2 linked regions of the Homo sapiens genome follow. The protein of the gene in region 2 purifies or fractionates together with the protein of the main gene of each other region. This does not show direct contact. Each region holds a gene or a part of one and is shown on either strand. Other genes may lie near its edges.

Evidence for each region.
Region 1: the proteins of TUBGCP6 (region 2) and FRMD1 purify together in Homo sapiens (co-immunoprecipitation; one large-scale study listed by IntAct). This does not show direct contact.

The regions. Positions count from the first base shown.
Region 1 is NC_000006.12:168,069,168-168,072,970, forward strand, and holds part of FRMD1 (FERM domain-containing protein 1), read right to left. Parts: intron 1-3,803.
Region 2 is NC_000022.11:50,217,189-50,221,321, forward strand, and holds the end of TUBGCP6 (gamma-tubulin complex component 6), read right to left. Parts: coding exon 3,063-4,133; exon of another isoform or gene 3,004-3,062; intron 2,828-3,003; coding exon 2,769-2,827; intron 2,604-2,768; coding exon 2,456-2,603; intron 2,269-2,455; coding exon 2,100-2,268; intron 2,022-2,099; coding exon 1,880-2,021; intron 1,710-1,879; coding exon 1,515-1,709; intron 1,433-1,514; coding exon 1,300-1,432; intron 1,215-1,299; coding exon 1,001-1,214; intron 930-1,000; coding exon 730-929; intron 640-729; coding exon 548-639; 3' UTR 506-547; downstream 1-505. UniProt on the Homo sapiens protein: Component of the gamma-tubulin ring complex (gTuRC) which mediates microtubule nucleation.

The sequences.
Region 1 (3,803 bases), on a different chromosome or scaffold from region 2:
AGACTTGCAGAGTCTAGGGGAGTCCCCACCCCACCCCATAACAGGCCAAGGACCCTCAGAGCCAGGGGTTAGCAAACCAGGGCCCCAGGCCAAACCCCAGCACCCACTCGCTCTTGTTAATAAAATCTTGTTGGTAGACAGCCACAATCATTCTATTACATCATGTCCATAGCTGCTTTCGTACTGCAAAGTCAAAATATTTACTATGTGGCCTTTTACAGAAAAAGTCTGCCAATGCCCGGTCTAAGCAAATGCCGAGTGAAAAGGTCTAGATCACCATTCTCTGGTCCTGACTCCCCCGAATTCACTATTTGGGTACTCGAGCTTGAACTCAGTGTTTGCAGCATGAGTGGCAGATGTTTAGCAATGTTCGCTAAAGGATCTGGGGTTACCTTTGCCTCGGTAAGGTCAGCAAAAGGCCTTTTATTTGTACATTCATTACCTAAATCACCCCACTGTATCCTTACCAACTCCATCTCAAATCATAATAAGGAGGACAGAAAATGAACTCCTTAAGCTTAGTACTTCCTAGGACTTAACCTCAAACACTACGAGAACAATACTTGCGGCAACACCGATCTAGAAGATGAAACCACTTGTTTCTCAAAATCATCACTGTCCCCCTAAACCCCTGCACCCCTAGCAGTGGGACAGCAGACATCATCACCTCTGGTGATGGGCGCACCCTTCTTAGCCCGGCCACAGTGCCCCGCTGTATGGTCAAAGCAGTCTAGATGTCACTGTGAAGACATTCTTAAGATGAAGGCGACACTCAGGCTGGGTGTGGTGGCTCATGCCTGTAATCCCAGCACTTTGGGAGGCAGAGGCAGGTGGATTGCATGAGCCCAGCAGTTTGAGACAGCCTGGGCAACATAATGAGACCCGACTCCACAAAAAAATACAAAAGGTATCTGGCTGTGGTGGTATGCATCTGCAGTCCCAGCCACTCAGGAGGCTGACGCCAGAGGATCCACCTGAGCCATGATCATAGCACTGCATTCCAGCCTGGGTGGCAGAGTGAGATGAAGGAAGGAAGGAAGGAAAGAAAGAAGGAAGGAAGGAAAGAAAGAAGGAAGGAAGGAAAGAAAGAAGGAAGGAAGGAAAGAAAGAAGGAAGGAAGGAAAGAAAGAAGGAAGGAAGGAAAGAAAGAAGGAAGGAAGGAAAGAAAGAAGGAAGGAAGGAAAGAAAGAAGGAAGGAAGGGAGAGAGGGAGGGAAGGAGGGAGGGAGGGAGGGAGGGAGACATTTACATCAGTAGACTTTGAGCAAAGCAGATGACCTTCATACTGTGGGTGGGCCTTGTCTAGTCGGTTGGAGGACTAACAGGGAAAGACTGAGGTCCCCTCTGGAGGAAGGAACTCCGTCTCCCGATGGCCCTCGGACCCAAGATGGCAACAGTGGCTCTCCCTGGGTCTCCAGCCTGCCCTGCAGATTTGAGACTTGCCAGCCTCCAACAATCATATGAGCCAGTTCTTTACAATAAATCAGCTTCTCTCTTTCTCCCTCTATGTATCTATACACACACACACTATCTGTAGAGAGAAATGGGATCGGAAGGATACGTGTATACAGACATACACATACGCATACATCTGTCAGGAGTGTGCGTGCGCGTCCTACTTGTCCTGCTTCTCTGGAGAGCCTTGACTGGCACATGACTGTCTGCTGGAGGACCGGCATCTTGCTGCTGGAAGGGGAGATTCTGGCGTTGGCTACAGGCTCCCCTGAACCCAGCAGGGTGGGGACTACATGCACCCTCTAGAGCCTCCTCACTCTCTTCCCAGTGAGAGTCATCCTCTCAGCTCGTGGCAGGCAGATCGGGACACACCATGGAGTCCACAGGTGCCTGTTGATTGAACAAAAGGCCTGAACTTCCCCACTGTGCCCTGCTACCCTTGACACTGGTGTGACAGCACGAGACTCCTGCAGGGCTGGCCAAGGGGCTGGACACCGGCACCCTTGCTCACTGCCACAGGAGCAAGCTCCAGGCAGCGAGGGCCAAGGCCAGGCCAGGTGGAGCCCACTCTCTCTCTATTCCTCTCTGTCTCTGTCTTATTTTGCCTTGCCTCTATATCCAAGCCCCAAATCACATCTCTTGTTTTTTGCTACAGGCCTCAAAAATGTACACAATTCACAAAATGTCTCAAAAATGTACACAATTTACAACTTAAGAGATAATTAAAGTAAGAAATCCAAGCACTTCCCGTATAAAAAGTCCAAATCTCCAAAGCAAGGGCTCTGGCCAGAACCAAGAAGGGTGTCCTCGGGTCAAGAAGGCCCTGGGGCCACAGGGCTCTGCTGGGTGGAGGTGCCAAACCGCAGCGCCAGGGAGGTTGAGGGGCCGGTTCTGAGTCTGTCCTCCTCCTGCAGAGGCGGATTCCTGGATCACCAGGAGGAAAGGTGACCCCAGATTCCTTTCTTGTCCCTGAGGCCAGTGAGCTCGGCCACAGGCTGTCTCAAATGTCCAGTGTCAAGGGGACAGGGAGAAAGGGGACATCATCAAGAAAGACGTGAGAAAGGGTTGGTTGGCAGGAGTCGGAAAGCCCTCCCACCTGGGAACTCCCTCCGCAGGGTAAAGACAAGGCAAACACTGGCTGATGAGCCAGTAATCTCCCTTTGTGTGCACCTGCCTGGCCGCCAGTGGGAGCTGTTCCAGGCCACCCTCCCAGCCCCTCCTGTTGCTCAAGGCTGTCCCAGCGCTGCAGGCCCTCATCCTGTGCTGACCTTCAGGACTCAAGGACCCCTGCCTCCTGCCTCCCGGGCCTCCCCACTGCTGGCCCTTGTGCTCAGACACACGGCAAATGCCCGTGAGCTCTCCCCTTAGCATCTGGGCAGCTGATGACACGGACACTGTGCCTCAGTCGAAAGGGAAACAGGGTTAGAAGCCAGCCGATGGCGTCCAAGCCGGGGCTGCCGACTTCATGACCTGTCTGCAATTCCCCAACACCGAGGATCATCAGCACATAAACCGGGAGAATCCTTGGCCACCGGGAACCTGCCCCGCCTGGGTGATGGATTCCTGGGCAACAGGAGAGACGCCCTGCCCTGCACCCCCTGCTGGGAGGGGAGGTCCTTCCCCAAGGAGCTGCCACTGGACCTCTGGGGGACCCCCACACTCCACCCTCAGAACCCCCCAACACCACCTGCTGTCTCTAGGTTTCGGGGACATCAGGGGCTGTGCCTGAACTCCGGATAGGGCTGAACTCCCCGTGCCCTCACACCCGTGGTCGCCTTGCGAACCACGTCTCCCAGAGGCCCTCTCAACCACAGCGACCCGCCCTGTGCAGGGCCTCCCATAGGGAGGGGGATGCCCTGGGGCGTTTCTCGCCTTGGGAGAGCAGGGAAGCCTCAGTGCCGAGAACTTGGGCACAGACGAGGCAGAGTGGAGCGCGGACCAGAGCTCGCCCCCCAAACACGGCGGCTCCAACATGTCGGTGAACGTCCGGCGGTGATGAACATGATGCACAACCAAAGCGATGGGTCCTGGCCCGGGTTTTGCGGGCAGCCCCTGAATTCCCCCCAATCCCCACCCCGCCCTCGATTTGTTTTTTGGCTGTTAAAGAGACTTTAAGCCTTTAAGAAATAAAAGATGCCAAGAACAGGGTTGGGACGCTTGAACTTTCTTCCCTCATTCTGTCCAGACTAATTTTCTTTTCATTTCTAAAATCACAGAGAGATGACACCAACCACAAAACCGAATAGCAAAACTGGACTCTCCAAAGTCAACATCCCGCCCTCCCCTGAGTGACTCTCACTGTGATTAAAAGTGGGGCCTGGAGACTTCTGTCCACAGCCCTCAGATGGC
Region 2 (4,133 bases):
CCTCCTGATCCTCCAGGTGCGGCGGGTGCTGAAACTACTGGAGACCCCTTACCACTGCGAGGCGGGGGCCGCCACAGACGCCGAGGCCACGGAAGCCGACGGGGCGGACGGCAGGCAGCGCTCCTACAGCAGTAAGCCCCCGCTCTGGGCAGCAGAACTGTGCGTGACATGATCTTCGTAACGGCCTCGGCACGCTCCACACCCCTGGAGTCTCCCGAGGCCCCCATGTGCTGCTGAGTGGCCAAGATGATGCCAGGCTGCCCTATACACTGGGGGATTCTGCCCTGGCCCATGCACACCCGTCTTTCCATGATGGCAGAGACATCCAGTCAGGACCTGACCCGTCTCTGTCTGAGGCCGGCTCAGCAGTGCAGCCTGGTCCCTGGGGGCTGGACCCAGGCTCCTAAATAAACCAGCAACTCCCTCGAGTCTGTCTCTGTGGTCATTGTTCCCCCACCCTGCCCTGTCCTCAGCCCCCACCCAGGAGAGAGAGCTGCAGACAGGGTCCGAGAACACCTTTATTGTGCACGTCCCCCGCAGAGCAGCCTCAGGCGTCCTGGTAGTAGTTGTTGAAGTTGATGCGCAGCAGAAAGTCCTCCAGGTGGGGCTGGTAGCCGCGGTTCACCAGCTTGGTCACCACTGGGGACCAGCGAGCAGCTCAGGCTTTTGCCCACAGTGTGAGCCCCGCCCTGGCCCCCCCGCAGCCCTCCCAGCCAGGGTGGGCCTCACCTTTGAAGAGAAAGTGGGAGTAGTACTTGAAGGTGTTGTAGGACTGCTGCATGAGTGCAAAGTTGGGGTGCTCTGCACCCCGCGGGCCCCCAGGGGGCCCCCAGGCCTGGGAGATGAGCTGGCTGCGGAACTTGAGCACGAGGCTGAAGATGCTGTGGATGACGTTCATGACGGGCGCCGCCTTCTCCGTGAGCAGGCCCCTGGGGGGAAGCAGTGCTGCTGGGTGGGCTGAGCCGTGACCACAGGGACGCAGCCGCTGCCCAGGCCTCACCTGAAGACGGCCTTGTGCAGGTACTCTGCGTGCGCACGCTGGATCTCCTCCAGGTCGCCCACGGTGGCCAACCTGGCCCTGAACTCGCACCAGGTGACGTGCAGGATCTGGTTGGCGATGTAGCCCTGGATGACCTTCACGAAATGCTGCATCTCGTGCTTGAACAGCTGCAGCTGACGGAACTGCACAGAGCCGGCCATGTGGCTCAGCAGGGCTGGCGGAGGGCAGAAGGCAGAGGGCAGAGGTGAGCGCAGCCTCCAGCCAGGGGTGCGGGGCGCCGGGCTCCAGCGGGGCCTCACCTGTGCGCTTGAGGTGGAAGCAGACGTCCTTGAGCGCCCACATCATGAGCTTCAGCTGCAGCAGGAAGGAGAAGACGCCGCTGTACTTGCTCACGCAGCCCTCGGTGATGACAATGTTGAGAGGCCAGTCCACCTGCCAGGAGGCGTGGCTCAGCAGGCATCCCACAGGCAGGCAGGCCCCTGTCCCATCCCCCGCGGCCAGGGCTGCTGCTGACCTTGTACCTGAGCTCCAGGCAGCTCAGCACATCCGGGGCGTTGGGGGCAAACACCTCGGGCAGGTACTTGAGAGCGAGGGAGAGGTTGGAGGCGTGCGGGGTGTCCCCATGCAGGCTGCACTGCAGGGCCTTGCTCAGCACAGAGTTCAGCACCAGCGGGTTGAGCAGCTCTCCGGGCGTTTGCCCAGCTCCAAGCTAGGCAGAAAAGGGACCACCGTCCCCAGGAGTCCCAAGCACATGCCTGGCACTCGCCGGCACCCCATGGGGCTGTGCCAGAGCAGCAGGGGGCTGTGGGCGTGCAGCCAGTCTCTCTTTTCCCACGGCCTCCCCTCTACCACTGGCCCCACCCCGTGTCCGGAGGCCACCTTCTCAAAGAGCAGGTCGCTGAGGGACTGGGCGAACTCGCCGTCCTCCATCAGCAGGAAGTGCCGCAGTGCCTCATAGTGCGCCTCCAGGTGCAGCTCCACGAAGAAGTAGTCGACAGCGGCCTTGTTCACCAAGGAGATGCTGGCAGGAGGGAGCTGGAGTCAGGGCGGGCCAGGACGGGCTGGGTGGGCAGACTGGCGCAGGGGCAGGGGCACTCACTGGGCGGCCAGCGGTGCCGTGATGGAGCGCTTCATGAGCACGGGCAGCGTCAGCAACTCGCTCAGCTGCACAGCAGTCTCATCAGCGGCAGACTGGACCTGGGGGTCCACGGGGAAGGCGAAGGCCCGGGGAAGCACGGGGCGCAAAAGATGAGCAATGGGCGGCTCGGCTGCGGGAGATGGAGCACGCACGTGCTGGGAACCGGCCAGCCCAGGGCTCCGCCCCCATCCACAGGAGATGGAGCACGTGCTGGGAACTGGCTAGCCCAGGGCTCCGCCCCAACCCACAGGAGGTGGAGCACGTGCTGGGAACCAGCCAGCCCAGGGCTCCCTGCCAACAGCAACTGCTGCACTCACACATGGACTCGTAACTGTCCGGGTACCGCTCCAAGTGGTACTGCCCTGCCAGGCCTGCCAGGTAGGCCTGCTCCCCACCCTGAGCCTCCGCCGCCGATGCCTCCGCCTCCTCACCACGGCCTGGGCTGCTCTGGGCAGCTGTGTCTTCCTAACAAAACACCAGCCTCAGAACCACCTCCCCACTGCACGCTGTCCCCACAACCAGCTTGTGCCAAAAAAAGGAAAATCGCATGTGGGACCCACCCGCGTGACAACCTAGAGGGACAGAGCCCTCCCTGCCTGCTGTGGGACCCCCAGGCTGCATCCACCTAACCTGTGAGTTGAGAGGCCAATTTGGAGAGAGGTCCTCAGTGTCCCCGCTCCTCCCAGGGCCTGTGTGGACACAAGTGGACACGAGGGCATCAGGGCCGAGTGCCTGTGGCGGGTACAGAGCCGAGCCGGCCCTGGCTCAAGCAGCCCCTCCCATGTCCCCCACAGCAGCCCAGGTCCTGGCTGACAAGGAGGCCTGAGGGGAACTTCACATGCCACCAACCCCACTGCCCGCCTACCTCCCAGGCTCTGTGCGTCCCACAGTCCCACTCCTGACCACCAGCCACCCTACTCTGACCTAGTTCTTCAGAGACACTGTCTCCCGGGGTGTTGGGCCACCATGGTTGGGTGGGAGCCACGTCTGACACGTTCTCCCCCACGCTGATGCTCCCCTCCCCGCAGCCCGAGCTGGGGGAGGACAGAGATGGCCCCACTTCTACAGGCAGCCGTGGCCCACAGTCCAGCACAGTGCTCTGTGCTCCCAGGCTGAGCGCTGACTGGGACGTGTGGCCAGGGGGGCTCTGTTGGGGCCTGGGTGTGTTGGGCTCAGCTTCTGGTGAGAGAGCCCCCAGCACCATGTGGGGCGGAGGGATGGGTACATGGGTGTTCCACCGTGGCCGGGTGGAAACCACATCCGACACAGGCTCCCCCAAGCTGATGCTGGCGTCGGACACGTGTCCATGGGTGTTGCACCGTGACCGGATGGGAGCCACGTCCGATACGTTCTCCCCAACCCTGATGCTGGTGTCAGACACATGTCCGTGGGTGTTCCACCGTGGCCGGGTGGGAGCCATGTCTGACACAGACTCCCCCAAGCTGATGCTGGCATCAGACACGTGTCCATGGGTGTTCCACCGTGGCCGGGCGGGAGCCATGTCTGACACAGACTCCCCCAAGCTGATGCTGGCATCGGACACGTGTCCATGGGTGTTCCACCGTGGCCGGGTGGGAGCCACGTCCGACACGTTCTCCCCAACCCTGATGCTGGCGTTGGACACGTGCCCGTGGGTATTCCACCGTGGCCTGGTGGGAGCCACATCTGACACATTCTCCCCGACCCTGATGCTGGCGTTGGACACATGTCCATGGATGTTCCACCGTGGCCGAGTGGGAGCCACATCTGACACAGACTCCCCTAAGCTGATGCTGGCATTGGATACGTGTCCGTGGGTGTTCCACCGTGGCTGGGTGGGAGCCACATCTGACACATTCTCCCCGACCCTGATGCTGGCGTCAGACACGTGCCCGTGGGTGTTCCACCGTGGCCGGGTGGGAGCTATTTCAGAAGCGTAGTCCCCTGTGGGAAGACCACCCCCTGACACCTGCCCAAAGAGCCGCTCTGTGGGCTGGCTGCTCCCCTCCTCCAGAG